Regions from separate parts of the Homo sapiens genome. Here regions 2 and 3 are each linked to region 1. Evidence: fine-mapped expression QTL. A gene starts in region 1. Each other region holds a variant in brackets. All regions are shown on one strand. Distances are between the middles of the regions. Region 1 holds the start of GDF7 (growth differentiation factor 7). Region 2 overlaps LDAH (lipid droplet associated hydrolase). Region 3 overlaps LDAH (lipid droplet associated hydrolase).

What was found. PIP is the estimated chance that this variant, and not a neighbour inherited with it, causes the effect. A credible set is the group of variants that fine-mapping cannot tell apart.
Region 2: its variant is the best candidate, but not a certain one, in a credible set for the expression of GDF7 in atrial appendage (GTEx, PIP 0.86).
Region 3: its variant is the best candidate, but not a certain one, in a credible set for the expression of GDF7 in T cells (TOPMed, PIP 0.79).

What each region holds. Positions count from the first base shown.
Region 1 is chr2:20,661,441-20,672,091 of GRCh38, forward strand. It overlaps GDF7 (growth differentiation factor 7), which reads left to right and starts at 5,704. Exons shown (of 2, transcript NM_182828.4): 1 at 5,704-6,190; 2 at 9,024-10,651. The coding sequence starts at 5,800. The coding sequence ends at 9,985. RefSeq lists enhancers at 4,447-5,277, 6,264-6,383, 8,755-9,700 and silencers at 5,364-5,473, 5,544-5,593, 5,634-5,783.
Region 2 is chr2:20,686,789-20,697,439 of GRCh38, forward strand. LDAH (lipid droplet associated hydrolase) reads right to left here. Exons shown (of 7, transcript NM_021925.4): 7 at 1-306. The coding sequence ends at 115. Among named protein-coding and RNA genes, the nearest start is that of GDF7, 25 kb to the left of the region's middle. RefSeq lists a silencer at 7,028-7,212. The variant A/G (reference allele first, on the strand shown) is at 6,632.
Region 3 is chr2:20,699,089-20,709,739 of GRCh38, forward strand. It overlaps LDAH (lipid droplet associated hydrolase), which reads right to left. Exons shown (of 7, transcript NM_021925.4): 6 at 2,482-2,564. Among named protein-coding and RNA genes, the nearest start is that of GDF7, 37 kb to the left of the region's middle. The variant A/C (reference allele first, on the strand shown) is at 5,170.

The sequences.
Region 1 (10,651 bases):
AAGTGGATTGGAAGCCAGATCTTTATCATGACCCTATACTGTAGTCTTTTTCCTGGGTCAATGGAAGCATATGGTCCTTGTCACTCATCTCCCAGGACACCTTACAGCCCCATGCGAGCTTGTTCACCTGCAGAGGCCCAGAGCACTGGTTCCTGAGTCTTCTCCCAGTAAGTAGGAAGTTCCTCAACACTGCACTGCTGTTACAACAAGTAACCAGCAGATGGCAGTGTCCACCAGCCCTCCCTGATTCGTCCCAAACCCAAGGGCTCTGAGATGTCCCTTTTGGAAGGCTTCTGGTAAAGAAGCTACCTTTCTCCCTTCTTCTCTGTTGCCTCTCCTCCCCCTCCCGGTAGCCTGGGGCACAGGGGCAGGCCACGCCCAGCGGCCTGGGGCCAGAGCTGTGGCTGACCCCAGTGTGGATGCCAGAGCTGTTGCTCTGAGTAACCTGGGGCCGGGTATCACCAGTTGAGCCTGGGAAATTCCTCTAGCTTCAGGAAGCCCAGCCCTGGGCATCCTATGGGGCTAAGCCAGAGCCCGCTGCAATCTTCCCACCTTGCTGTCCCAGGTCTTTCTGTGGGAGACATTTGCAGCAGATTTCTGGACTGAGAGGAGTCCATCATCACCAGACCCAGAGAGGGTGGATGGCTCTGCAGGCTGTTGTCATCAACTTCTGTCCCTTGCCTTCCCTGGGAGACCTAACCCAGAGCCCTATCTCCTCACCTCCAAACCTTTCTCCAGCTCTGAGTCAAAAGGCCCAGAGGCTACGGTGGGTCCAGACAGAGGACAGGCTCCTGGCTGGGTCCCAGGCAGTGGACCCATCTCACACTCTTCCCGTCTTTCACTGCAAACCCTGTGGACGTTTGATTGTCAGCCTCACTGCACATCTGGGGTCTAAAGCCAGGAAGGGTGAGGAACTTGCAGCCCAAGTTTAGAGGCACGATTTGAATTGAGGTCTCTTGACTCTCAGGATTATCAGTTTTATGTTCCAAGTTAGTGCATGGCTGCAGGGACCCAGCATCCCCAACAGAGGAGAGGGGAGGGCAAAGGCTGACCCTCATTATGTTGCACCCACAGGGTGCCCTAAGCAGAGGTGAGGCAAGACCCTCTGGGCTGCAATGGAGAACAAAGGCCCCTGATCACAGGGGGACCCAGGATAGAAGATGGCTATGATGCCAAATGACAGGCTACTGATCACATCCCCTTGTTGGGGACTTGGCTTCTGCATGTGGACAATGTAGAGTAGGTTGCCTCTAAGGGATCTTTTAGTTGTCTTGTCATCAGACATGGGGCCAGGTGTCTGGGTATGGCAGGAGACCCTGGGCAAGGCTGAGTAGGCTACAGCTGGGGCTTGCCCAAGTTCCCGTACCTGACAGTCGCTTCAAAATGGCTGTAGCTGGCGGGATCCAAGACTAACTCCCTAAGTAGTATCAATCTAGTGTTGTAGGTTCCCAGATGACATGCAAACTCCCCACAGCAAAGGTACCTTCGAGAGATGTGGCTCTCCTAGTAGTAGTAGAGAGGACTTCCTCACAACCGGGTACAGGAAAGCACAACCGTAATCCCAGAACTTTGGGAGACTGAGCCTGGGCTCAAGAGGATGCTTTGAGGCCACCCTTGGCAACACAGCAAGACCCTGTGTCTACAAAATATTTTTAAAAATTAGCTGGGTGTGGTGGCTTGTGCTTGTAGACCCAGCTACTAGGGAGGCTGAGGTAGGAGGATCACTTGAGCCCAGGAATTTGAGTTACCGTGAGCCATGATTCTGCCACTGCACTGCAGCCTGGGCCACAGAGGGAGACCCTGTCTCCTAAAAAAAAAAAAAAAAAAAAAAAGAACAAAAAAGAACTTCCTCCCATTCAGAGGTATCAGAGGCTGCCTTGGATAGGGAGTTCCCCACCTCTGCAGGTATGCAAGTGCAGCCCAGGAAGCAATTTGTTATGATTCAGGCATGCATGGCAAGTTGGCTTAAATAATAACCCCAAAAGTTGTTTTCAGATCCTTGGATTCTATGACTGAATCAGGGACTTGGTGTTCAGAGAAAACAAACAGCTTCTGCAAGGGGTGGAAGAGCAGCAAAGTGCTCTGCAAGGAAGGGTCTGGGGCGGGAATGTGGGAACTGCCCCTCTTCATCCCAGTTGTCAAACATCGCCCCAAGCAGGCTGCTTTCCCCTCCTCCCTCCGTTGGAGGCAATCTCACCTTCTCTCTCTGAGGAGGACTCAGCTGGAGTCTGGAGGTCTGGGGTTTGGGGGTGATCAGATGGATGAAGAACTAAAGTTAGGGCTTTCAGGCCCCAGTTTTCTCCCAACCTTCTCTGATCTCTGCTCCTGACATCTGCCTCTGGGCCTCATCTGCTCCCCAGTGATGGCTGGGGCAACACAGAGGAAGGTTTTCATTCTCAAGGCTCTTAGTGCAGTTAGCATGTGGTGCACAGCTTCAAGGGCTCCGGGCTGTGCAAACTAGCTCTCTCCTGCCCAGCCAATCGACCTAAGGATCCCCACATCACCTAAGAGGAAGTCCCAACTGGGCAGGGCACCTGGAGACCTGGGTCATGGGCAGGTCCTGCTGCTGGTATGACAGGCTATTTTCCATGGCAAGTGTTTTCCGCTTCCAGTTGCGAGCAGTGGCAGGCAAGAGTCCCCTGGGTAACACTTTCATAGTCTTCACCTGGACTAGAGAGGTCCTTTCTTTGCCAAGAATTTTCTAGAAAGCCAGAGAGGAAAGGCAGGCATACTCTGCCTCTCCACTGGGGTCTGGGGAGCAGGGCGGCAGAACAAAGCCCCTCACATTCCCATCCCCCAGCCCCAAGCCAAGGGTTGAGCAAGGATAGTTGATGACTCCATGCTCTGCCACTCTCCAGGTGACTCTGCGCAAGGTGTTGAATTCTTTAGCTCAACTTTCCTTTTCTATAGAATGGGAAGAATACCCATCTCACAGGATAGAGTAGTTGTGAGAATGAAATGGCATGAGGTGTGTGGAGCAGCAGGCAAGGTGCCTGACATTCAAGGGACAACGAATGGGCACTATCATTATTTACAGGGAGCGAGGGAGACAGGCATGACCCATGCATCCTCTCTGCCTCCTCCTGGGCTCGGCTCCAATGTGTCCTCTGCTGATCACAGAGCCCCCCAGCCCATCACTTTACTCGGAACCACTGGATAGCACACTGTGCATTTATGCGCTTCCTGTTGGCTGTCTCCTGTGTCCATCCTAAAGCTCCATGTGCTCGCCCTGTGCGTTGCTCAATCCACAATGCACCGAAGGCTACCTGGCAATGAGTATTTACATAAAGAAGGAATGAATAGAGGGACGGATAAATAAATAAATGACTGTGCCCTCACCATACAGACCAAGAAGCACAGGTGGGAGAAGTGAAGTCTCAGTTGGAGCACATACAGCGAGTGGACAGTGGCTCCAGCAGCATTAGCCCACCCCATGTGTGTCCTCCAAAGCCTTCCAGGTGCGTAGAAGCTGCTTCTCTCTCTGCCATGATCACCCCTGGCACTGGGAACACACTGGTGGTTGGGGGCAAGACTACATCACCTCCTCTGTGCCAGCCTGTTATGCCAGCCACACACAGGATGAGGTGAGAATCCGCTCATTTTATAGATTAGGAAATTCGGTCTCCAAGAGGCTAAGTGGCCTGCTCCCACAATGACAGCAAGGGTGCATCCCTCATTCCTAAGCCCCAACGTGGCAGGGGTGTCATGTAATCAACAAACGTTTGTCACTGGCTGTGCCAAGAATGTGCTAGGACCCTTCCGCTCTCTGCTCTACACAGCCGGGTAAACTGAAGCCAAGACAAGGCAAGCGACTTGCTGTCACCCAGGACTCCCCGCGTGTTTGCACAAATCTTAGCCGAGTTGATTTGTAAAACACCCAAACACTGCGGGCGCATGGCTGCAGGGGGAAAGGAAGCCAAGTAACACAGTAGGACCCAGCATCCGCGTCAGGGAGAGACCGGGGGGCTGGCGGAGTGGGGGCGGCGGTGTTTGTCACCGACTCTCCAATCCCAGTCCTAGAAGCAGGGTGGACTATCCCAGCTCGATCATCCCAGATTCCCCAGGCTCCTGCTAGGAGAAGTCCCTCAGCGCCGGCAGCGCTGACCCTGGTCCAGGGGTCCGCCCTTCCCGGTAATGTCAGGCCTTTCTCCTTGGCATAGATCGGCCTTGGGGTCTGCGAGGACTGAACCTCACTAGGCCTCTCTCTCCCACCCGCAAACATTCTCGAGTGTTATGCGGCTCAATGCCCCAAGGTGAGCAGGCGCCGCGTCTCCGCGGTGGCCGAGAGGGCAATGGCTGAGGAGTTCGTTTGGGACGAAGCAGTGGAGCAGGGGAACTGGGGAGCCTGGGCCGGGCCTCTCTGTGGGTCCCAGCGCAGCGCAGCCAGGCAGGCGTCGGGACCTAGGCGGCTTTGGATTCGGCGGGCGACCTCGCTTTGAAGCTGATCACCCGCTCAAGGTGATCACGACGTGCCGACCCAGTCTAGATTTTGAGTTCTGCAGAAAATGCAATTTTAAAGGAAAAGGACCCGCCTGCCCTTCTTCGGCAGTTCGTTTGGCCCAGGCCTTCGATCAGCTGAAAGTTTCCGATCTAGGGGGATGTCCAGGCTGCCGGCGGAGCAGAGCCGATAACCCCCCTCTCCTGCGCGTTCCCCTGAGACTTGGCCTCCGCAACCTGTCCCAGCCGCGGAGCAAACTGCTCTGCGGCCCGCGCGAGTGCGCCCCAGGGCTTCGCCGCTGCCGGGCGTCCCCTCCATCCACCTCGGGACCCGCGCCATCACCGCGGCGGGGTAAGAAGCTCGGAGGCGCCATCCCGGGGCTCTGCGCCGTCCGCTCTCCCGGCTCCTGGCCGCTCACGCACACAGCCGGTAGCTGGTTTTCGTTAGCCGCTGCCCTCGCCCAGAAGGCGGGTGGAAGGTCGCCAGTTGGACGCACAGCCAAACTCTTAGCGCACTCCCGCGCGAGATCCCCCATCACCCGGGGCTGCCGTCCTCATTTCGAGCTCTTTCTAGAGCTTGGCTCCCGCTGAAGCGCAACTTCCGCGCCCAAACCTTGCTTTTACGACGGGCGGTCCGCGTCCAAAGGTCTCTTACAGGCCTGCCCTTTCAGCTCCTCGCCCTCCCTTCCTCCCCTACCGGCCCCCTCCCCTGCTCTGGCCGCCCGCTGCAATCCTTTGGGGTCTGTGGCTGAGTGGGGAACCGCCGACCCGCGATCCGGAACGCGACTTTGAGGCCGCCGGGAGCATCCTGTGGCCTCTCTCTGCGCGGCCACCCGGCCGCGGCGCGAAGCGGTCTGGAGGGCGAGCCCTTCCGCGGCCCCAACTCTGCCGCCCCGTTCCCGGCATTGGGAACCAGGGCAGGGAGGGGGCGGGTGTTTCTCTGCGGGGGAGTGGGGAGGAAGCTGGGCGGGTGCGCGCGGTGCCCCGAGCCTGGAACCACGGAGGGCGCGTTGGTCTTGGGCGGATGGAGGGGGTGTCGCACTGCCGCGGGGAGGCGTGTCGGGAGGCTGGGGCCAGTGGCAGTCGCTTGGCGAGGGTGGGGGCGTAGCGCTGCGGTGGGAGGAGGCGGCTCCGGCCCTGGTCTCCACTCTAGGCCGGGGTGGGGGGCGCATAGCGGCCGCCGGAGCTTTCAGCAGGGGGCGCTGCTCCGGGCGTTGGGCGGGGGTGGGGTGGGCCAGGAGGGGGGGCCGCGGGCTGGCCGCGCACACTTCCCCCATTATTAAACACTATGTTCAAAAGGCGCCGGGGGACTTCCCGGAGCCACGGAGCCCGCGCCGCCCGCCCGCCCGGCCCACGGAGCCCATGGACCTGAGCGCCGCCGCCGCGCTGTGCCTTTGGCTGCTGAGCGCCTGCCGCCCCCGCGACGGGCTGGAAGCGGCCGCCGTGCTGCGAGCGGCGGGGGCTGGGCCGGTCCGGAGCCCAGGGGGCGGCGGCGGCGGCGGCGGCGGCGGGCGGACTCTTGCCCAGGCTGCGGGCGCCGCGGCTGTCCCGGCCGCCGCGGTTCCCCGGGCCCGCGCCGCGCGCCGCGCCGCGGGCTCCGGCTTCAGGAACGGCTCGGTGGTGCCGCACCACTTCATGATGTCGCTTTACCGGAGCCTGGCCGGGAGGGCTCCGGCCGGGGCAGCCGCTGTCTCCGCCTCGGGCCATGGTCGCGCGGACACGATCACCGGCTTCACAGACCAGGCGACCCAAGGTACTTACGCCTCTTCTGTGCCCGCCCATCCCGTCAGGTCCTGGGCTGAGACCAGCCCCGGAGCCGTGCCGCAGCTCCGTTACATTTGGAGCCGCGGCCCCATGCGGCCCACCCTCAGGTGATAGAAAGAAACTTCGCCGAGGCCAACACTCTCCAGCCCGCTGCACCTGGACTGTGGCGAGAGTCGCGGCAGCTCCCGGGGCCCAGTCCCAGAGGGCTGACTGGTCCCTCTCCCAGGTCTCCCTGGCCTTGCAGGCCGGCTGGTCCCCTCGAGGAGGCAGGCGGAGGCCAAGATTCGCTTCTTGGGGAATGGTCTGGAGTGGCCTCGGAGCCCTCAGAGAAGAAAGGAGGGCAAGAGCTGTGTTCCCGGGAGTCACGGCGAGAGGGACTGCACGGTGGTGAGGGTGATGGCTCCTTCCTTGCAGCAATTTCTGCAGCTCCCAGTCTCCTGCGGGCCACACAAATTGGGGGAAGCCCAGGGAAAACTAGGGCAGAGGCAGGTATCAGACTAAAGTAAATGGCCCTGGAGAGGCTGGTGGCATAACCAGGTATGAGGAGTGCCCTGCTCAGCAGGTTGGTCTGGGTGGTGGTGGTTTGTGTGTGTGTGACATGTGCAGCTATGGGTGCCTGTGTCTGGTGCTGGGCCCCTGGGAGAGCCAGAGGTCAAGGATCCTGGTGGTGTGGGGAGGAGAGGCCTGCTGGGGACCCTGCAGGAATGCAGGCCTCTCTTAGACTAAGCACCCCACCTTGTTCTGCCCTGGGCCTTCCAAAGGTAAGATGTAGGTGAGGCTGTGGTGTGGCTGCTGTATGTCATCTGGATTTTATTAATCTCCATTGAAATCATTAAAGCAGACAGATAGAGAAAATTTACCTAATTTCAGGCGGAAATGCAAGTAATTTCGGCCTTAATTCTATCCAGCCAGAGACCCAGCATGGAGGGCAGGAGGGAAAGAAAGGCGAATAGGGCTGGGAAGTGAGCGGGTGGGGCTGAGGCAGCCCTGCTTGGGAGCCACTGACAGTCAGCATACCTCAGGTCCTAGCCTGGGAAGGCAGGCAGAGGCCTTGCAAGTGACCAGGTCATCCATCCCTGCCAGCACATGCCCAGTGCCTAGCACAGACTGCCTTATTTTTGGTACCTGGAAATCTTGGTACCCAATCCCCAAATGGCCCTGTGGTTCGGTTAGAACTATCAAGCCTTCTCTGACGGCCTGACATGGCCCCTGGGCTGGATGCTGGGATACTTATAGGACGCCCTAGTTCTGGTGCACAGGGACAGGGACTGAAGGGTCCCAGGCTGCAGGAGAAGGGGGGTGTGCTGGGCTCTAAGTGGGCACAGGCACCAGAGTCTTCTTAAGGTTGAGCTAGTTCTACCATGGTCTCAGACAGGAGATAAATCCTTTCTGGGGAGCTCAGCTTGGCTGGCTGAGCCTGAGAGGCCTCCTCTCCCTCCTCCCTCTTGGGGGAAACAGAGTGGCAGGGCTGGTGAGCAGGGAGAGGCAGAGGATCTGCAGGGAATCTCAGAGAAAGTGCTCCTCGTGCAGCCCCAGTGTGCCTCTCCGGCCTCCCTCTCCACCCTGAGTCTCAACTTGGAACAGGGCTGCTTGAGGTCCCCAGAAGCCATTGATAGGGATAGAACCGGGACCTCAGGCATGAGGGCCTGACCTTCGTGGCTGGTGAGCAAATCCCCAGTGGTGGGGGGATTCTGCATAGTCTCTCCGAGTTTAGGGGCAAAACGAAACCATATGACCCCCTTCAAAGGGAGCTCCTTATCTGCTGCGTGGTGGAATTTTAAACTTTTTTTTTTTCTGAGCCCAAAAAGGAAAAAGAAAAAAGAGTGTCCACACTGGAAATAAAACCCCTAAGCCCGAGATAAGTCACTACAGAGGGAAGAATGAGCCCGCGAAGGGACAGACAGGCGGCTCCTGGAAGCGAGACCTCGTTTGGGACGCTGCCCTCACTGCAGCAAGGTCATTCCGGGATGCCCCGCACCCCTCCGGGAGGTTCCTTGTGTTCCTTTACTGCCTTTCCCCCTCCTTCGGAGGCCGCGAGAGCACCGGGAGGAGGTGCATTTGGGGTTGCGATCGCGAGCAGCAGCGCCCATTGTTGCAAGACCTGAGACCTTGGGCGAGCCTGGCCCCTACCTGGGCCTCAGTTCCCCTTCGGCAGAGCGAAGTTGGACTAGAAGGTCTCTGCGGCCGTGCAGACGAATTCTCCCGGACGAATCGCCGAGCCCCAGCCTGCATGGGAGACCGTGGCCAGCAGGGATGTCCAGGCTGGGTTGGGGGAACAGAGGTAGCAGAAGAGTTTTCAGGAGACCAGAATTTTCCGTTTTCGCACAGCCAGGACTTTCGGCTCTCTTGGGGGATCAGCAGGGCAATAACGATAAGTCTCCTTAAGGCCCAGGACCTCAGGAGGGGGTGCACGACTTCTTTTCAACCCAGCCCCGGACTCTGATCTCGGATTCTGGCCCGCGGCTCTGGGTCAGGCCGCGGAACTATAGCAGCCTGCAGTCCTGGTCTTGGGTGTAGGGGTGCGCTCCTGGTCCCGCGGCTCAGGGATATGCAGTGACCATGGGTTGTTGGCCTGATGGGACTTTTGGCTTGCTAAACCAAAGCTCGGTTCGGATATCCCGGGCGAAGACGTCCGCTGCTCTGGGCCAGGCTGGCAGCGTTCAGGCTGGGGCAGAGACGCGGAGTCGGGCGCTGGCTCCAACAGGCCTGGCTCCCACATCGAAGACAGCTGGGCCATTTGCTGTTAGGAGGCCCCGCGCTGACAGTGTGCAGGATTTGCTCTTACACAGCTCTTTCTCTCTGTCCCTGCCGGTCCCCCGCAGACGAATCGGCAGCCGAAACAGGCCAGAGCTTCCTGTTCGACGTGTCCAGCCTTAACGACGCAGACGAGGTGGTGGGTGCCGAGCTGCGCGTGCTGCGCCGGGGATCTCCAGAGTCGGGCCCAGGCAGCTGGACTTCTCCGCCGTTGCTGCTGCTGTCCACGTGCCCGGGCGCCGCCCGAGCGCCACGCCTGCTGTACTCGCGGGCAGCTGAGCCCCTAGTCGGTCAGCGCTGGGAGGCGTTCGACGTGGCGGACGCCATGAGGCGCCACCGTCGTGAACCGCGCCCCCCCCGCGCGTTCTGCCTCTTGCTGCGCGCAGTGGCAGGCCCGGTGCCGAGCCCGTTGGCACTGCGGCGGCTGGGCTTCGGCTGGCCGGGCGGAGGGGGCTCTGCGGCAGAGGAGCGCGCGGTGCTAGTCGTCTCCTCCCGCACGCAGAGGAAAGAGAGCTTATTCCGGGAGATCCGCGCCCAGGCCCGCGCGCTCGGGGCCGCTCTGGCCTCAGAGCCGCTGCCCGACCCAGGAACCGGCACCGCGTCGCCAAGGGCAGTCATTGGCGGCCGCAGACGGAGGAGGACGGCGTTGGCCGGGACGCGGACAGCGCAGGGCAGCGGCGGGGGCGCGGGCCGGGGCCACGGGCGCAGGGGCCGGAGCCGCTGCAGCCGCAAGCCGTTGCACGTGGACTTCAAGGAGCTCGGCTGGGACGACTGGATCATCGCGCCGCTGGACTACGAGGCGTACCACTGCGAGGGCCTTTGCGACTTCCCTTTGCGTTCGCACCTCGAGCCCACCAACCATGCCATCATTCAGACGCTGCTCAACTCCATGGCACCAGACGCGGCGCCGGCCTCCTGCTGTGTGCCAGCGCGCCTCAGCCCCATCAGCATCCTCTACATCGACGCCGCCAACAACGTTGTCTACAAGCAATACGAGGACATGGTGGTGGAGGCCTGCGGCTGCAGGTAGCGCGAGGGCCGGGGAGGGGGCAGCCACGCGGCCGAGGATCCCCAGCTGATGAGCAGCAGCGGGCCACCCTGTCACCGAGCGTGGGTGCATGTCCGATGTGACCCAGCACCCTCTCAGAGGAGGGAGAGCACACGTTCACACTCACACACACTCGTGCAGTCACGCACACATTTACCGGGGACAGCATGTGAAAGCCTTGGGAAGAGATGACCTGCCGGTACCGAATGTCAAAGCCCTGTGTATTTTGCAAACAGATAACCATGGCGCCCACTGCCCCCATTTAGGGAGAGGAAGGTGTTTGTGCTGATGTTGCAGTTAGAGGCACGAAAATCAGGTAGCAACAACGGGTTAGGAAATTCGAAGTTCCAGAATGGGAGAACCAAAGGGGTACTCGAGCATGCTTTATCTCACCCCCTTTTGTTTCTGGCCCGATGTGGGGCATCGCTTCCCTGGGGGGCTGAGCGCCGCGTGGTGCACTCCGTGACCCACTGCAAGGCTGTAATGCCCTTCCCGAGGGTTTGTGTTGCATGGGGCCGTTTACCCTGGAACTGCTGCAAAAAGCATCTTTCTTTTTTTAACTTTTAAAATTTAACGTGCCCCTGCTTCATTTTTGAAAGGGAAGTTTTGTCTGAAAGTAGCTGTTGTGGAGCTTCCCAGATTTCTGCA
Region 2 (10,651 bases), 25 kb after region 1:
TTCTCACTTTCTTCATTTCTAATATCAGTCTTCAAAATTAAACATTTACCTACTAAGTCTAGTACACTGACTGCCTCCATGTACTGGCAGTGGGGGCTTGTTCCTCAGGCCAATTTACATTTTGGACAAGTCATCCTTTAGGGAGTCAGCAATCATGTCTGCCATTTCCTGGTTAAAATGGGTGATGAAAGCATGAGGTATGTTTTTCTCACAGAGTCGAATGTCTCCTTCTGGAAAATCCTTCTTAATGTCTTCATAGTACTCTTTTGGACACCAAGGATCTATAGTACCATAATAAAATGTAAGCTGAAAGACAAGACAAAAACCTTTTATTAGAAAACACGTTCCCTTCCTGACACAGATATGACACCAGCAGCCGGCAGTGCTCTGAGGACAGCACCTACGCCTGACCCTGGGAGCTAGTCCCTAAGCTCTCTCCAGAGTGTGGCTCTCTCAAGGCAGCAAGGCTTCACGATGTACAGGAGTGCACTTAGAAGAATTTGGTGGGAAGATCCCCATGCTGGGAGACTCTTGTGTGATAGATCACTCATAATTCACTGAAACGACTTACCAGGAAAGTTTTGTGTACTAAGGTTGGGATGGACACTGGAATGAAGGCCGGTGAGGATGACGAAGACAGTTATTGAGACATAGTCACTGAATGACTAGTGACCAGTTAATAAACTTAGTTGTTTCCAAATAGCCACATGGTAGTCATATGGGATGTATTTGTTGAATGAATACAAACACAGATCAGATAGACTCAGGCTTTCCAATGTAGCTGATGAAATGTGATCAGAATCCTGAGAGAGTTTATGACCTTTCTAAGAAAAGGCTCTATGCAGCCTGTATGTTGATTCAGTGGGGAAGTGCAATAATCATACTTCAATTGACAGCAAGCAGCTGAATGGAGACAGAGCCTCCTCTGTGGCATTACTAAGACCCTGAATGGATATCTACCTAAACCTGCATGTGATATATATGTATATTGCTCTAGGCTGCTGTGTTTCACTGAAAAACTGCTATGTTCTAGTTCTGTTAGTTCTAAAAATAAAGGCAACAAAGCAACATCTTATATTCAGAAGAACAGATAGTGGCAATTTCTACAAAAACCAAGAACTAAATCTTAAGGATCCTTTGACCTCTGTTATCACTGAAAGACAGAGCTATGCCTAGCTCCAGCCCCTAGTTGGCCAGCTGTAGTCACTTGCAGCTTCCCTAATATACCAAATGTGCTCCTTCATTCAGACACTGAATTGCTTACTCATTCCTTTGTTCATCAAATACAAATGGAGCACCTACTTTGTATTAGGAACCTGGAAAATAGAGATAAGACAGTCTTGGGGGGAGGGGAGAAGGGGACCCCATGTATACAAGACAATTTGAGAGCTCAGGTGAGGTGCAGCTGGTCAGAAGTAGTAGGCAGGAAAGATTCCCCAGAGTTGATGCCTCAGTTGAGTCTTCAAGCTGGGGCAGCACACTGTGGGGAGAAGACCAAGCAAACCAAAGCTTGAAAGAGCATGGCATGTGTGGGGAACTGGAATTCCACATGGCTGGAATATAGGGTGGTGGGAGATAAGACTGGAGAGGCAGAGAGGGATGAGGTCATGGACAGCATCTTCTATGCATGCCAAGGAGGTTGCGCTTTATCCCGAAGTCCACAAGGCAAAAAAGACTGCACAGTGAAGTGACATGCTGAGGTCCCTATGTCAGGAAAACCACTCTGGCCACAACGAGAAGAAGGATTGGAGGTGATCAAGTGCTGGGGGAGGAGAGTGCAGGGAAGCAGGCGTTATTGCTCACTGGATAGTTTGAGTGTATCAATTATTAAATCCATGACCTGAATATGGGACAGATGAGACTGATCTTACGAAAACAATGGCCTTCATTACAATAACATGATGCCTTAACCAATATTTAGATGGTTAGTTAAAAACACTTTATAGAGGAAAAAATTTAACATAGTACTCCAGAGAGTAAATTATGAACAAGTAAACCTCAAGTGGCAGACTTACTCTGAATTGCTTCATGGAGGTTTCCTTTTTTTTTTTTTTTTTTTTTTTTTAATTATACTTCAAATTCTGGGACATGTGCAGAGTGTGCAGGTTTGTTACATAGGTATACACGTGCCACGGTGGTTTGCTGTACCCATCAACCCGTCATCTACATTAGGTATTTCTCCTAATGCTATCCCTCCCCTACCCCCCATCCCCTAACAGGCCCCGGTGTGTGATGTTCCCCTCCCTGTGTCCATGTGTTCTCATTGTTCAACTCCCACTTATGAGTGAGAACATGCCATGTCTGGTTTTCTGTTCCTGTGTCAGTTTGCTGAGAATGATGGTTTCCAGCTTCATCCATGTCCCTGCAAAGGACATGAACTCATCCTTTTTTATGACTGCATAGTATTCCAGCTTCATGGAGGTTTTCTTGGTTGTTACCTGGGGTTCCAGTTTTGCACGCTGCAGAGGACCTGCAACTTACAGATTTATCACTTAATTCATTCTTTGCATTCTCCTACTTTTCCTCACTCCAACCATTTCTGGGCATTCCAAAGCCCCTAAAGCCAGAATTCATTTTGCCATGGTTCTTAGCAGAGTAAGAACTTCTTTTGCTTCCTAGAGAATATGAGAGCCTAGCAGTTGCCTAGTTCTTCCTCCTGGTCTCAGCTCTTTCTGTAGCTCTAAAATGCTGCAACCTCACAACCAGTGGGAGACTATTCTTTCCACTAGTAGAAAAACACGTTTCCCCGGATCTCTCAGCAACTACCCTGCTATAGCTTTGCCTTGAAATACTGTCAAGAGTACAAACTATTTGCAGGTATTAATTATCTACCAATAGTGCTGATAACATTAGGCTCTCTCTAAGCTACTCCCTATATTTACCACCAGCAATCTTTTCGATTGTATTCAGGGAATAGGATAGGGAACAGTCGCTATGCAGTTACTCAGCACTTCCTCAGAGCAGGGAACACTGCTGAGAAATCTGGAAAGTCAGACTTGGGTTCATACCTGTCAGGTCTGTTCCTCTGCTGCAGGGCATGCTCTCGCCTCAAGATCACTGGACCCTGAGAAAGCTACTCTAGGACCCTCACTCCAGTACAAGCTACAGTGTGAAGTCCTATGATAATGGCAGTCAGCTCAAAGGAAAGCCAGACAGAAAAGACCTCATCTAATACAGTTTCCTCAACAAGAAAAGCGTCACTGTACGCACCGCTGTTGCTTTCTGTCTGACATTTCAAAGACTGTTTCCATGAAGAACGTACCATTTACTTTTCTGTGATGCAATTACAACTTGAAATGTTTCCAATGAGAAGTCCAGCTTGATAAGCCCTCAGCACTGAGCAAACACCATCCCCGTACATGCAGTTAAGGCAGTGATTTGAGCAGGGGTGATCAACATGGATTAAGGGACCCGACACCCACCTCAGGGTATCAAGAGACAAATATGTCCAAGTAATTATGGGGCACACACTGTCCAAGGCATGTGCTAGGAACCTCAACAAAGAGTGGTGTCAGTGTTCAAGACAGCAGAACAGTGAGGAGTCTAGACCTCCCGTATGCTTATCTGATTTTATTTCTCGATTCTCTACAATCCTTAAACGTTTGAAGTGGGCCCCATTTGGTTAAACGCCTAACTGATGATGGGGGTGGGCTCACGTTTTGTAAAATTTTGTTTTCTTTTACAAGTTCTTTTTCAGGCTATATATTCTCTAAAGGGCTTCCTATGAAAGTCTTGGCTTACAAGTAAAACACATGGTTATCTAATGCCTTTACATACACTGGCTTGAGATACTTCCTTTTCCCTATAAATTATAAATCACAGGCAATAGATCTGACCGGAGAACTCCGCACCTGCAGCCCTGAACAGGAAAATGAGAAAGTATGGAGTGTGTGGTGGCACTGGCGGGGGATGGGGGAGGAGGGGTGAAGTAGAAAGAAAGAGAAACAACTGGACACCAAAAACATAGTGGTTAACAGTGCATACTCTTTATTTATCGGTATGCAAAAATGAATCGCAATGCACCATGATGAACCAATGGGCCGAGAGCAATGGCCAGGCTCTGTGCTAAGTAAGCACTTTCTATGTATTATCTCGTTGTATCCTCACAACAATACTCTAAGGAAAGTATTGTATCTATATTTTACAGAAAAGGAAATTGAGGCTTAGCAAGATTAACCTGCTTATTTCAAGCAATTTTGCATTGAAGAGCTGGGCTACAAATCCACAGACAACATTCCTAACTTGTACCTTTTGCTACTACTTACAATTCCAGTAAATAGACCCGTTATAAAAACATAAAACCTGACAACTGGCAGGTCTTAAACTGGATATGAAAACTAATAGAGTGTGAGAGTTGTCAACAGGAGCTAACACAGCCACCTTTATTTTTATTTACTTTTTTATTCTGAGACAGTCTTACTCTGGGCCCAGTCTAGAGTGCAGTGGTGTGATCTCAGCTTACTGGAGCCTTGACCTCCCGAGCTCAAGTGACCTTCGCACATCAGCTTCCAGGGTAGCTGGAATCACAAGCGCATGCCACCATGCTCAGCTAATTTTTAATTTTTTTTTGTAGAGACGAAGTCTCCCTATGTTTCCCAGGCTGGTCTCCAACTCCTGGGCTCAAGTGATCCACCCACCTCACCCTCACAAAGTACTGAAATTACAGGCGTGAGCCACAGCACCCAGCCTTCCCAACTACCTTTACTGAAAGCCTTCTCACAGTCTATGTAGCTCTTCTGAGGCACTGTGTGTCATGGGGGTGATAACTGCCATGAAAGTACTGGAATTGTTAACAAAGAATCGCAGGCAATCAGCAGGATGTTTACATTCAAAGGTTTAGAAGAAAATAAATTATTTCCTGTAGTTTATTTATCCTTAGCACTTGTTTTGGAACTCATGAGAGTTGATAAAAAGTATACATTATTGAGATAGAAATTTTTCTGTTTCCAAATTGTCATGTTAAGTAACCCATTGTTTTCTATTAAGCACAAAATTTAACTTTTTTTCAGTCTAGATTTTGATTCTCCAGAACCATGCTTTGGCTTTTCCTCCTGTGTTTTCTGCAGGAAAGTGGATTTATGGTTACTATGGTCTCTGGGCTTATAGATGAACTTCCCTTTAACTGTTTAATGTGCACCTAAGGGGACAGGGCCCTCCTAAAATATCCCTGCAGGTTGCTGCAGCTTGTCCCCACATCTGTCTTTTCTTCTGTGTGTTTTTTTTTCCCCACTTTTTGGGGGGTCTACAAACAGCACTGTTGGACAGTGAATTGCTGAAGCTGATAGATTAAAATGAGTTCCACCAAAAATGACTCTGATTCCATCCCATATCTGGTACTAGGCTAAGTGGCTGACATTCAGAAGTGTGTAAGATGGTCTCTGCCCTGGAACAGCTCACAGACTAGGCGAGAGAACAGACCTATATAAACTGGCTCTTAAATACAACAGGCAGACAGAGGTATGGACAAAGCCCTACGGGACCCCAAAGCAGGAAAACCCAAATTCTGCCCTGAGGGAGTGAACATGAACAAAGCTTTGTTTTAGTATACATTTGGAGTTGCATGCTTTTATGCATTACTAATAGAGGATTTATAGTAAGAACAAAGAAATATTAGAAGCATCTTATGATTTAGCTAATAACAAAACTCACTTTCAATGACATAGCAACATCTTAAAATAATAACAATTTTAAAAGCCACACATAAAAATCTCTATCTGAATTATCTGTCTATTCAATAGGACAGTAGGACTACAGGCATTACAGGAATAAAAGGGCTAATAAAATGAAAGTTTTGCATCTCTATATATTTTTGCATATATATATTTGTTGTTGGTGTTAACCTTATGGATAAACTGAATTTTAGAAGCTCTTTAAATCATAATTCACCACGAAGTCAAGTTTGGTACAAACGATATCTCATCAATACAACTTGAAATGTTTCCAACGAGAAATCCAGCTTGATGAGCCTTTGGCACAGACTACTTTGGGTAGTCAATTTGTGGGGTGCCTGTTTTGTGATATAGTGCAGGCCTGAGCAGGGTGGTAAACGGCATTTCTGGGGGTGTCATGCTGAGAGTGAAAGGGCTTCTCATAATGTCTTTATATCACAGTGTGGTAAAATAATTGTATTTATATTATTCTAAAGTAATTTGTGAAACTACTCAAGCTCCTTATGCAGCCAAGAAGAGCGTAGTGCAGTGAGTACAGTGTTAAGACTGTACAGGTCCCTGAGCCATATCCACCTGGACTGGAATCTTGGTTCTGCCATTTATTGGTGCTGTGAGCCTGGACCAGTTACTTAGCTTCCCTGTGCCTGTTTACTCATCTGTAAAGTAAGACAGAACTAGTTACCTGTGGGCTAGTGCTGAGGACTGGAAAACAAAGTGTATCAAGTGCTTTCCACATGGTGGGCACTCTTAAAGGCTGCTGCTTTACAGGTGAGGACAAAGGGAGCTCCTCGACACAGACTGGGCAATGGTGGGCTGGGTGGGTGGGAGCTGTGCCCTGCTCAAGGAAAAAGAATCCACATGACCTTACATTAGCCTTTGAGAAAATATATTCTATTCTGATAAGTTGTTTTTGACATAGGCTCAGAAAATGTATAAGTATTAAACATTTTTTAAAATATAAA[A/G]CAAAGTTGTTTTACCATATACTTACTCATTATCTAAAAAATGTACATGTCATATTCCCCAGACATGACTGTAGAGAAAGACAGGTGGGGTAGAAGATAAGTCGCCAACCAAATAAACAGTGAAGCACATCCCTATCCTCAAGCCGCCACTAACAGTCAGCTCTTGGTGTGGATTCTATACTTCCACTTTTATAATAAAACCTACTTTTCCTCATAAAGGAGACCTGGAGCCTAAGCTATAGTGCCCTTTGGCTATCCTTGGTTGAGCATCTTCCAAATGAAGAAAGGCACCGACATTCTGGGAGTTACTTTTCTTCCTGGTGAGCTCACAGGGTGAGCCTGTGGGTTCTTGCAGCAGTGAAGGTAATGCCCACCGCTTTTCTGAGCAATGCAAGGCTTTCTGTTAGCACTTCATCAACAGCTGTAGCTCCCTGGCAGCTTACGCTGCATGGCAGGGCAACCAGGAAGCCAGCACTAGAGACAGTGACCAAAGAGGAGTGACACAGATTCTGAGAGAGATCTATCTTCTTGGCCTTTCTTCCAGAGGTCTAAGAAAAATATGTCATTCCTGCTTTCTCCAGGTTTTCTTTCCTTCTTTGAAATAATTTGCACTAGAGCAGGTTTTTTGCTTGTTTCATTGTTTGTGAAAAAAGCAAAAGGTCAGATATAAAGCAGTCGGTTGAATACCAAGGGATCAAATTAGTACCTACACATACAGGCCCCCTACTTCCCAGCTAGGGCCCCTACCCTGCCTTTATCTCCTGTTTTCATCCCCTTGAAGCTTTCCCGGGCTCGGGATATAAACTGTTAGGTCCTCCAATGCATGCCCATTTCTGGGGAGAGTCCAGACAGTCTGGATGACAGCAGCAGGCTTCCACTTCTCCCCTCCCCTCAGAGTCAAAGACATGTAAGCCCCAATCTTGCAATGTTAAAGGAAACCGATTCTGTGATATAAGCATCTCCTTTCAGTTACTTAAAAAATCTTATCCCTGTTGGGGACACAGGCAGCTGCAAAGTGTCAACATTTCACTGCAGTCTTTCTGAGCCTCTGTTTTTAGGGACTTGCAGAATTGCTAAAGAAAGGGAGATGGTTTAGGGACTTCAGTTTTTCCAGTTACCTTGTTTCCTCTCTTCCGTTTATTCCTAACTGGCTCAATTACCATTCTTGAGAAAATGAGAACTGAAATCTCCAAAGATTTTTAAAAAGTGGCTGAGGATGGAGGTGAAAACACAAATGCTTCCCGCCCGTGAACCCTGCTTCTCTCTGCAGGCACAGAGGGGAGCGGTGGGAATGGGAGCGCCAAAGGAGGAGTAGGTCCTATGGGGCACTGTGTGGCTCACTCTCCAGTAGCTGGAACAACCATCTGTGTATACAGCGGTGTGCAGAGCAGCACTCTCCTTTCCGTGTGGCTAACATGTAAAGGGCCAGGATCCTCTCCCTCCCACATACAAGCCACGAGGCCATCAAGTGACTGGCTTGTCTCTTTCTCACGTGAGACTGCACTGAGATGCTAACCCAGGGCCTCTGCTTTCCTCTGGCGAGGCCCTCTGGCAAAGTAAGAGGCCCTGAGCGCCAGTCTCCTTCTGTGTTTCTGTCCTTCCCTGGATCTGTGCCCCAAGAAGGGGGCAAATGTACTGGAATGGTTTTACTCAACTAACTGAGAGAAGGGCTAAGTCCAGTTCATCAGACTTCTCTGGACTAGAATAATGGGCCCAAGCCTTGGTAAAAATCAAGTACTATTGTGTTTTCCCCTCATTATGGTTCCTATACAACAGCTCCTTGAGGCATCTTATGGGGAGTGGTGGCTGTTGTTTAGAATGGCATTGGGCATTCCGGGGTCTCTTGGCCACATACTCAGCATCACTAATACCTTTCATTAACACAATGAAAGTATCTGAAAAGGGGATGTGAGAAGAGGAACAGTTAGGCAAATAGTCTTTTTAAAGTGCTTAGAAGCATAACTAGGCTATAACTAACTTTGTAATAGTAATAAAAACATTTATTGAATGCTTAGTGCATTCCAGACACTCTTTCTTTTTTTTTTTTTTTTGAGACGGAGTCTCGCTCTGTTGCCCAGGCTGGAGTGCAGTAGCATGATCTTGGCTCACTGCAACCTCCCCCTCCTGGGTTCAAGCAATTCTGCCTCAGCCTCCCGAGTAGCTGGGACTATAGGCATGCACCACCATGCCCGGCTAATATTTGTATTTTTAGTGGAGACGGGGTTTCACCATGTTGGCCAGGCTGGTCTCGAACTCCTGACCTCATGATCCACCCGCCTCGGCCTCCCAAAGTGCTGGGATTACAGGCATGAGCCACCGTGCCCGGCGGAGATACTCTTATAAGGTCTGAATTACAAGGTATGAATTATAGCATATTTTTGGAATAGCTGTATGAGGCTACATACTATTATTAACCATTTTATTGATGAATAAAGGAGGCACAGTGAGGTCCGGTAACTTAAGCAGGGTCATGAACAAGGGTGGATTTGGTGTTTGAAGCTTGGCTGAGACTCTGGGAGCCCAGCTCTCCAGCACGTTTGCCTCCCCTCAGTCACCAGGCTCCACTGCAGAACCCCAGAGTGTGCTCACACAATTGCCCAAATAAAGCTTTCAAGGTCACAATATTGAGATAAAAACAAACCTATCTATTTTCAGGATGATTATGACATTCTGGACAGGCTTTAAATTAAACAGGCAGAACTAACACAATCCGTTTCAGAATACCGAGGCTTGGCGGAAAGGCAGGCCTGGTGAGCTGGTCCAGGGAGCATTTCCTATGCTGCAGCAGGCAGGACATGTGCATGTCAGAAGGATTTGCATGCCCCAATCTGCAAACAACTGCACAAGGTTTGCTCCCAAAGGCAACACACACCTTTGGGCTAAGGCAGGCTAAGAGGGATGGGGAGAGAGCAATAGCAGAGGAGTTCCTGTTCTTGAGGACACTTGCCCCTTTCCCAAGCCACACTGTAGCCCTGGCCTGGCCCTCTGGGGGCAGGGGCAGCACCACCTTACAGGCAGCCCCCCTACCACTGCCTAACTTCATCTGAAAGCTGCACTTCATGTGTTCTCTTTGGAGCAATTTCAGATTCCTACTTACTGATAGTGATGCTCAGATTCAGTCTGGCAGTAGCACACACCAGCTGTTTCCGTAAGCCTGGGCCAAACGTGGTCATGGCAGTTTAGAATTCCCCCCCTAAGTGGGTTTGAAATGAAAACTTCAAGTTTATAAACCAAACATGAGTTCACTTTTCAATGAATGAGACATGCATCCCTTATGGCTTAGAACAGTGACAGAACAAGGGAGTGCTGACCTCTTATTTGCCTCTGACACACCAGGTGCCTCATGAAACAGAGAATACTCCAGAGGTTTCCAGACAAACTGGGATTGGGGTGGCGAAAACGCACAGTTGATTCTCTTCCCTTGGTTTATTTCATCCTGGTTCTCCTTCCCACCCTTCTTACCTCCCCTCCCATCTTATTCATTCAGTGGCTCCTCGTCTTCCTCCCAACCCTTAAGCTGGGTTCCCTAATGATCAATCATTAGAAGTCTTCTCTCCTTATTCTGTATACTTCTTTAGGCTGCTATTACCCATGCTCTTGGCTTTAACTACAGCCTCATCACTCCCCAACCAAAAGTCAGCCTCAAATATCTTTCTAAGCTTTACACCCATACATCCAGGGCCTGCCAGACACGGATCCACTTGCATGTCCCACTGGCATCTCAAATACAAGTACCAAAATGAACCACTTGTTCAGCCATCTCCCATAACTTGCTGCTGCTTCTCTTCCCATATTCCCTGTCTTATTACCAAGTCCAGATACAAAGAAATAATCTTAGATTCCTCCATCTCCATTCCCCAATATCCTGTTAGTACTCAGTACCTTTGATTCTATCTCCTAAATCTTTCCATCTTCAATCCCAATGCCTTAGTTCTTATAAAAGCTTTGTAAACAGGCTCCCCAACTCATATTTCATCCTTTTCTAGTATTATACCACACATTTGCCCTCAAGATAATCCC
Region 3 (10,651 bases), 38 kb after region 1:
ATGGCACAAAGATATATTTTTCAGAACTATTTTTAGTTGAATAGCTGAGATACAGGAAATGATTTTTCAACAAAATGTGTGGCTTGATGACTATTCACACTGGACAGTCCTGGATAGTTCTGAAGTTTCTGAACGCCTTTGTTTGGGTGGAAATGGGAAAGAGTATCCTCGATTAAGATACCTAAATAGGAATATTTCTAATCCCGGGCATTGGTTTTAGTTTGACCAGTTATCGGGGGTGTTTGGAAGGCAGGAAGCAATGCCCACTATCTTCCTAGAACTATGTGCACTTTTAAGTTTCCTTATTTTCTCAAGCAGACTGGGACATATGTTGATTCAACTTCTACCAATATTAAATTACAGCATGTTTCCTCTTTTTATTACAGAAACAAAAAGTTGCAATAAACTTCCTGTCTCTCTGTACCTAGTTTCACTTAGGAGCTGTAATTGTATTATTCTAGTGGAGAGCTTGAATTTTGCTGGTAGAAAGGATAATGAATTAACTGCAAGGTAGTTTTGCATGATTAAATGAAACAATGCTTTGTTTCCCCATATTCTAGAAGTATATTTAATGCTATCTCAAAAACAAAACTATTGCCTGGAGTTGAAAAAGTTTATTCCTGTGACTGTGTGTTAATACTAACCTTGAAATGTCTACCATTTACCATTACACCCCCGTATTTCCCCATAAAATTTCAGTAAACTTACAGTCCTGACATAATTACCATGAACAGCCCTCTATCTGGGAATGATTACACTTGCATATGGATTTCACTTGGGACAGGAATAAGTTAGCACCTTTCTTTGACCTTTTTCTGAGCACAACACACAAGCTGAATCCAGAAATGATGAGTATTTTACAGCAGCTGGCTTCCACAGGTGGTAAAGCAGACTCTGACACATGATGGGTCTAGTTGTTCAGCAAGTGTGAATTTTGGAAGTGAGCATCTGCCAGTCTTATTATTAACTGAGAGTTGAGCTGTTTTTATGAACTCCCAACCTGGAAGAACTTAAATGCATTTTTGAAACAGATTCACTTACAGTTTAAATGGAAAATAAAATACTGTTTTTCTTGTATTTTCACATCGCTCAGTGACTGGAAGTAGCTGAAAGCCCTGGAGAGGGGGCCCTCCTGAGGCCCCAGCACTCTCCCTTCGGCTAGTGAGGGCTTCCTTCTGGTTTCCAAATTTCAATCTCTAGCCAACTGCTATTTCAGAAATATGATGACCACTATGGCCATGAGACAAAACAACACTGGCATTTTCAAAAGTCCTCTCTGGGTGAATATTTTCAATATTCTAAAAAAAAAATTTTAAGAACATATACACTTCTCGTTTTAAGATAATTGTACTGGGAGGTTATGGAATTAAGAATTAACAATGTAGAAAAGTTTAAGTCAAATGTATCAAGGTTTATAAAGACATTCTAAGTCCAGTGGGTTATCTCGTATTTCACTTGTGGATTGCTCCTGAGTCCTATGAGAGTTTGCCACTCAGCAGGGATCATTTCAGCAGGTATCATAGTTCAGCACCAATTGTAAAGTTTAAGACTAATGCTGTCCAACAGAAGCATAAAGCAAGGTACATATGCAATTTTAGAATTTCCTAGTTACAATGTTTAAAAAATTATAAAGGAATGGGTGAAATTACTTTTAATAATATGTTTTACTTAATCCACTATATCTAAGGTAGTATTTCAACAGGTAATCAATATAAAAATTAATGAAATACTTTGCTTCTGGGGGAACTAAACTTTTGAAATCCAATGTGTGTTTTACACTTATGGCACAACTCAATTAAGGCTAGCCACAAATAACCACATGTGGCTAGTGGCTATAATATTAGTACAGTTCTGTCCTACTCAGAACGGACAGCCAGACAAATGATGCCACAGGAGTACCACAGTCATCCAAATTCTAGGGTGACCTTAGACATATACTAAACCCTACTCTTATAGTTTCAGAGATTGGTGCTTCCAGATGTGTGTGTGCAAGATTCTAGTATTTGCAGCATAACTCCCAAATGTTGAATATTTCACAAAACTGGTCTTAGGGTCAGAGCAGGACATTCCTACTCTAACACATTAGAGAATAAGAAAGGCTCACTAGTCATGAGATCATATAACATATAATGTATTTTCCACTGTTTCATTTATATTCCAACATTATTTATTCTATAAATATTATGGAGTTTTCTCAGTAGAAGGCCTAGAGAGGCTAAAATGCATTGACAAAATAGAAAAGTATTGATTCTAAAATTAATTCAACAAAAACAGGTGATAAAAAAATAAGTTATTATGCAATTAGCTTTACTACTCTCTACACAACTTTCAGGGATAATTTCAATTTTAACTGGAAGTAGAACTCTATGTCATTCTACCAACCCTTAAAGTCTTACAGATTCTAACTAGTTCTAGTCCTTTGCCCTCGTATCTCTGCCCATCTACTTATTATCTATCCCCTTGCAGCACTAAAGTGATTACCTTACATAAATGCTCCTTTATGGTTTCGTCATCTCTCTTCACCACCTCCATCATTTCTTGGCCCCCAAGGTAGGCAGCATTAGCTACATTTAAAAAATAAAAAGTCAAACATTTAGAATATATAGAACAAACACAAATTTCAAATTAATTTTAGTAAATTCATGTTCCTCCTTTCTTTTGGCACGTGCTATCTGATGAGAGATACTGGTGAGGCCAACAGAGGAATGTGAGTCAGGCAACATGCACACAGTCTCTGGAAACAAGAGCATTTCATTTAAAAGAACCTTCTTCCAACCTCATCTGGCTTCTCCATAGCAAAAGTTTAACAGTGCCACAGCCCAATGTCAGATACCACAGCAGATGATGTGTGCAATTTTACCAGACCAATATGTGCTATTTCGATTTAAGGCTTAGAAGTACAAATTGTTACCAATAAATCATGTATACCAAGAAAATGCAAACAGTTACTAACATGAAAATATACTGGCTTTTTTTTTTTTAAAGGAAACAACTAAAAGGATTATTTATCTTTAAAAATACGTTTAAAGTTCTCCAGGAGTTTTCAATAGGGTTAGTCCCATTACACTGGCTGCAAAATAAGCAAAGTGATGCTCACTTTCAAGATGTCAAATACCTAGGAAAGAGGAAGAACGCCAGAGATAACATGAGTTTATGTGGCTTTCTTGTACTGGTAAGAAAATTTTCATTCAATGCTTTGTACCCTGAATTCCATTTTGGCTGGTATTATTATTCTTATCTTGCTTTCTTTTTTGCCAGCATCTGTCCTTCCCTTCATTTTCAATCTTTTGTCATTTTGTTTCAAGTATGTCTCTTGAAATCATGTAAGTGGACTTCTTTAAAAATGCAGTTTGAAAGTCTCTGTTTCTTAAATAGAAGGACTAAACATATTCACATATATTGAGATCAAAGCTATTTGGTCTGACGCCAGTCATCTTGCTTTATATACCCTACGCTTTCTTGTTATTTCTGCCTCTTATCTTTAGTGTGAATGATGAATTTTCCTCCCCACCCAGGATTTAACAAATTTCTTTTCATTAACAATCTGAAAGTATAAATTCCATTTTTATTTATCTAGTGGTTAGCCTTACCTAAAAACTGCAAACTTACTTTTTATTTTCTCTTGCTGTCTGGAATTACTCATCTAAACAAGGCATGACCTTAGCATACTTGCACTTTCCCCATGCCTTCCTCCCATCCTGCCTCCATCCCTGTTGCTTCAACCATCTGGAATTTTAGTTCCAGATTATTATTATTTTTTGAGATGGAGTTTCGCTCTTTGTTGCCCGGGCTGGAGGGCAATGGCACGATCGTGGCTCACGGCCACCTCCCAGGTTCAAGCAATTCTCCTGCCTCAGCCTCCAGAGTAGCTGGGATTACAGGCATGCGCCACCACACTCCGCTAATTTTGTATTTTTAGTAGAGACAGGGTTTCACCATGTTGGTCAGGCTGGTCTTGAACTCCTGACCTCAGAAGATCCGCCTGCCTTGGCCTCTCAAAGTGCTGGGATTACAGGCATGAGCCACCGCACCCAGCTCCCAGATTATTAATTTTTACATTTTGCCTCTGCTTTCCTTGTTTAAAGTTTTATCAAGGTAACACACATACACATATATAGTTTCATATCAAATATCACAGAAATGGTTGTAGTGCCAAACCATAGTTTTCTTTTCCATCATTTCCCATTTCTAGACCCGTTTCCTAGAGGAAGCCTCTCTGAACTCTTTTAGCTGTCCTTCCACCAGTTATCTTCAAACCTCTAAACACTTACGATCATCTTGTCATTTCTTGATAACTTATTGATTACCCTTGCTGAGTTGCTATGAAAGATGAGGATTTAGCTCCCTTTTACAGCCCTACCATTCCTTCCTGCCATCTTCTCAACATGTTTATATCTTATTTTGAATTATTCTATTCTTACTTAAATAATATACTTACACCTTTACTTCTGAATATTGTTCACTGCTGAGCCAAGTGGTATCTAGAACCACACTTCCACTCTTACACTTCCATTCTCTGTCCTCCAACATTTGTTTTCGTTACAGTTACCTTTTTTTCCCTCTTAACTCTACTCAATATTTTTCTGAGTCAATTCTTCCTGGAGACCTCCTTTCCAGGACCCTGAGACCTTCTGCTCTAACCTGGACCACTGTCGACTTAGAATTTCCCTTCACTGCCTTCTTGGGTTGTTCCTATTGTTTTCTAAGTCCCAGTTAATTAACTCATTCATTTGTTTATTCATTCAAAGATGACTGAGCACCTACTTACTTTATGCCAGGCCTTATTTTAGGCGCTGGAGATGGAGCAACAAACAAGACAGAAACACTATTCTTGAGCTTATATTTTAGTGTTGGGATGATAGATGGTGAGAAAGTGCTATGGAGAAAAATAAAATCAGCTTAGGAGATAAGTCTGTGCAGTGACAGAGGTGGCCTATTTTATGTAAAATTCACTGAAAAGACCTCCCTGATAAGGGGATGTGTGAACAGAGAAGAACTTGAATGAAATGAGAAAATGGACCATGCAGATACTTGGGTTAGCAGCACTCTAGACAGAGAATAGGGTAGGAGATGCTCCCTTAAATATAGCCATGATATAATCCTAAAAAGTAGCACTTTAATCATTCTTGTCTGTCTGTGATATTAGCATGAGTACATATAGGAGTAAAT[A/C]TTCTGCATTTTCTTGGCCTAATCTCCTAAATCAGAACAGGATATTTAGTCGCAGTTATATACTAAGAAGCTGGACTATAAGACTCTAAGTCCCGGTTCCAAAATCAGAACTGTCTTTGTTTTACTATATTTCAGGGAATTTATAAGGACCAACTAAATTAAAGCAACAGAGATTTGATTAATACATTATGGTCTATTCACTAAATTAATTATTCTATAACCTATTAAAAATTATCCTGCAGAATATATAATGTCAAATACATATTTAAAAATAATAGTAACTGACAAAAAACAAACCATGAAATAGTACAGTATGATCCCACTATTGTAAAGATACATTATGTGTATGGTACAGATTTATTTGAAAAGATAAACAATAAAATAATAACACGTTATCTCTGGTTGATGGAATCCCAGGTGATCTGCCTGTCCTTTCTTCTCCTCTCACTTCCCTGCCTCCCTTTCAAATAGGTTATAGTTTCTTTCTTTGTACATCATTTTGTCTTTCCTAGAATTATTTGTTGCCTTTACTTGATTTTCTTTTCTCATGAGTAGACAATGAAAATTCTTTCTTCAAAAATGCATCAGATTTTATTCCCAAATGTACAAACACATCCAATAATTCATTTATTCTGTCCCTCCCCCCACAGAGCCTTCCATTCTTTTGATCCAATCTTGGACGGGTTGCTCTCCAGGCCTGCTGCATAGCTGTCATCCTTGGACTTCCCTTTGCCACTTCTCTGGACTGGATTCCCTGTTTTATGGATTCTGTTCATGACTTTCTCATTCTTGGTTTATTCCCTTACTTTACTGAAGCACATTTTCCAGTAACTAATAAAAAGATACACAGGAATTTTTATAGATGTTTACATGTCTAATTTTTGTTTCTTTTCCCACATGAATCACATAGTTTGGCTGTATATAGAATTTTAAGCTGAAAGGGGCTTACCCTCAAGTTTATTATCTTCCAGCATCCAAGGTTTATGATTTCAATTTTAGTTTCTTGGAATGTGACTACTTCCCTTTGTCCTGCCCCTATCCCATCTCCTTATCCTCAAACTCAGCTGTCTTAGCTCTAGAATCCTGAAGTTTCATAGGAATATGCCCTAATACAAGTCTTCTATTCCTTAATTAGACTGGAAATCCAGTGGGCCCATTCACTGTTTGGACTTACCAACTTTCTTTCTGGAAAATTTTCTTTTATTATTTCTTTGGTAATTTCTTCCCCTGTTTTCTCCATCCCCTCTTTCTGGAACTCCTACTAGTAGGGTATTGGCTCTCTTAGACTAATCCTCTGTCATTTTTCTTCTATAGCCTTTCTCTTTTTCAATTTGTATTATTTTCTAAGAGACTAGTTAGAATACTATTATATTGTCTAGTGGGGGAGAGAATGAGACTTAAAGTGCTTATAGTATGAAAAAGAATAAATGATCAAAGACATAATTTTTCCTACTATAAACATGTGCTCTGTATATAAAATGCAGAAATTATATGAGTAGAAGAAATGATTAGCAAGAACTTAGTGAAAAATAATCAATATTACTATTTTGATGACTTCATTTAAATCTTTAAAATTTTATTGTTAAGTCTTAGTTTTCACATAGTTATACCGCATATGAAATTTAAAATTTTGCCTCTGAGCACATTCTAGAGTAGTGCTATGCAATATAACTTTCTGTGATGGTGGAAATGTTCCCTGTGCTATCCAACCAATACAAAGGCCCTTGGCTAGATGTGCCTCTTGAACACCTGAAATGTGGCCAGGGCAATAAGGAACTGAAATTTCAATTTTATTTAATTCATTTACATTTAAATAGCCACATATGGCTAATGTCTACCTTACTGAGCAGTGAAGTTCTTTCTAGAGCTACAAATAAGGCCGACCTTACAGAGCTAAGAAATGGATTAGATATTAGGAGAAGGTGAAGGAATGAAAAATGAATATTAGTGGGGGCTTAGGAGAAAAAAAAGTTTGGGGAACACCATGAGGAAAAGACAGATTTTATTGAAAGAGAAATTCTCATTTTCTTTATAACTCCCATTAGCCTTCTCTACAAAATCTGATCCCAACCTATGTTGAAGCTTGGCTTCATTTAAAGACTCATGCTTTCCAGTGAATGTGAGCTACTTATCCTCTAAACACATAAAATTTGCATCCTCAGCCATTTTGTTCATGGCATTCTGTCTACTTGAAGTCTTCCCACCCATCCTTTGTCTTGGCTTAGATGCTCTGTCTTTTCGCTACCTTGCTCTAACACTCCAATCTGTTAATAAAGACTGCTGAATTATCGATATAGAAGCCAAACCTGTTTAAACTGTTATTGGTTCCCAAAAATCTCAACTGAATTTTAATTTCAAATGGAAATGATTTTCCATAGTTCTACTTCTGAACAAGATGGAGTAAGAGGGACTGGATTTACCCTCCTACCTAAAATCCTGAAACAACTAAAAAAAAAAAAAAAGATAAAATACATGAAGAAAAAAGTTTTCAAGACACTGGATATTGGGCAACAAAAAGACAGCAATCCCTGAGAAAAGAGAAACGAATGAGAGGAGTCTTATGATTGTCTCAGCTTATCATTTGAAAAGTTTTCAGGCTACAGTGCAAGAAGGAGAAGTACAAGCAGAGCTTGGTAATCTCCCTCAGTTGATAAGTGCATTAATTGTTTTTTATTGTCTTCATTTTATGATGCTTTGACATCTTGGAGGCCTTGCTTGTCGGGGAGAGGCTGCCCCTCCCATGACTAGCTAAATTCTTAGAGATAGCAAATGATTCCACGGTGAACATTTCTTTCATATTGAGCAAACAACCAATCCAAAGGCCATACCCACCAACCACCTCCCTTAGAAAACTCTCACACAACAAGCCAAATACTCTAAATCACTCTAAATCCTGCTGGGAATTATTTCAGGGCTGGACACAAGACATCTAGGAACTACTCCTATAGCTCAAAGCCCACCAAAATTTTTCATACCAGCCAATCCTAACTAAACCTGCTCAGCTGCCTAAACTGCCTCATCCCTTCCTTCCCATGGGGACCACAATGAAGGCTCTGGGCCATGCTCTCCTGTGCTCCTTCTGCCTCCTTCCCCAACTGGGTGCTTCCCCATGAGGCCCTGCCTAGTGTGCAATGCCCCCTCCTTTCAAGAATTCTAAGTAGCTCTTCTTTCAAAGGCAGTTGTCTCCATGCTTGCCATGTTAACACACCTGATTAAAACAATGCATTTGTAATCAAGGAGATAGAGGTGATAGTTTGGGGAGGCTACCGCAGTGGTTTTTGGTAGGGCAGAGTTGTAGAAGGAGAAAGCTGTAGTGAGTGAGAGAACGCTCCAGAGATCTGCAGAGGGGACCCCCTGAATTTCAGCTAGGTGCAGATCAGCACAATTGTATGAGAAATTTTGAGAAGCTGGGTGAAGGAATCATCTGAAAGAATTAGAGGGAATAATCCCTGAATTGAGAATAGTCACTGTTTCTACCAGTCCACCAGAGAACGTCACAACCAACAATGCATCCACTAGAGCAGCACCAGTACTGTGTCACACGGCAGGAGGTGAGCAGCAGGCAAGCAAGTGAAGCTTTATCTGTATTTACAGGCATTCCCCATTGCTTGCATTACTGCCTAAGCTCCACCGCCTGTCAGATCACTGGCAGCATTAGATTCTCAGAGGAGTGCAAACCATATTGTGAACTGAGCATGCAAGGGATCTAGGTTGCGTGCTCCTTATGATAATCTAATGCCTGATCATCTGTCACTGTCCCCCATCACCCTCAGATGGGATTGTCTAGCTGCAGGAAAAGAAGCTCAGGGCTCCCTCCCACTTTTCTACATTATGGTGAGTTGTATAATTATTTCATTATATATTAACATTTAATAATAATGGAAATAAAGTACACAATAAATGTAATGTGCTTGAATCATCCCCAAACCATTCCCCCAGCCTGGTCCAGGGAAAAAGTGTCTTCCACAAAACCGGTCCCTGGTTCCAAAAAGGTTGGGGACTGGTAACTAGAGAACTCAGAGAGGTTTTTGCCTTGGTGGTGGAGTAAAATTAGCCCTAAACCAAATGCCATTCTGGTACCAACTAACAGCCTAGAAGCAAGACCAGAAAGTATCAAACCGTCTCCAAATAACAAAACTGTGTCCCATAACACAGCTCAATAATATTTATAGAAGTACAAAAATATCCAGCATCTGACAAGGTAAAATTCAGAATGTAAGCTATCCAATAAAAAATTATCATGCATGCAATGCAAGAAAATACAACCCAAATGAGGAGAAAAACTGATCAGTCAAAACTGATGCAGAAATGACAAAGATAATAAAATTAATAAACATTCAACAACTGGAACTTGGACAAGTGGATATACATGTGCAAAAGAAGGAAGCTGGATCACTACCTCACATGACATAGGAAATAAATTCAGAATGGATCATAGCCCTAAATGTAACAACTAAAACTATAAAACTCTCAGTAGGAAAGAGAAATACATCTTTGTGACCTTAGATTACAGAATGGTTTGTAACTATGACATCAAAAGCACAAGTGACAAAAATAAATAAATAAATTGGACTTCATCAAAACTAACACTTTTATGCTTTAAAGGACACCATCAAGAAAGTAAAAAGACAATCTAAAGAATGGGAAAAGATCATATGTCTGATAAAGATCTCTAGCCATAATATATAAAGAACTCTTACAAATCAATAATAAAGACAATCTGATTGAAAATGGGCAAAGGATTGCAACAGACATTTCTAAATATCTTCTTAAGAAGATGTACAGGTTGAGTATCCCTAATGTAAAAACATAAAATCTGAAATCTTCCAAAATTCAGCTTTTTGAGTGCCAACATGATGCTACAAGTGGAAAATTTCACACATGACTATATGTAATGGGTTGCAGTCAAAACTTTCTTCATGCACAAAATTAAAAATATTGTGCAGTTACCTTCAGGCTATGTGTATGAGGTGTATATAAAATATAAGTAAATTTTGTGTTTAGACTTGGGTCCCATTCCCAAAATATCTCATTATGTATATGCAAATATTTCCAAATCCAAAAAAAATCCCATATCCTAAACACTTCTCATCTCAAGCATTTCAGATAAGGGATATTCAATCTGTACAAATGGCCAATAAGCATGTGAAAAGATGTTCAACATCATTAGTCATCAAGGAAATATAATCAAAACCACAATGAGATACTACTTCACTAGGATGGCTATAATAAAAAAAGACAAACAATAACCAGTGTTGACAAGATGTGGAGAAACTGTAACCCTCATGTCTTGTTGTTAGAATTATAAACTGGTACAGGAACTTTGGAAAACTGTTTGGCAGTTCCCTAAAATATTAAATACAGAGTTACCATATTACCCAGCAATTCCACCTATAGACAAGAGAATTAGAAACATAAGTCCACAAAAAACTTGTACATGAGTGTTTACAGCAATATTATTCATAATAGTCAAAGAGTGCAA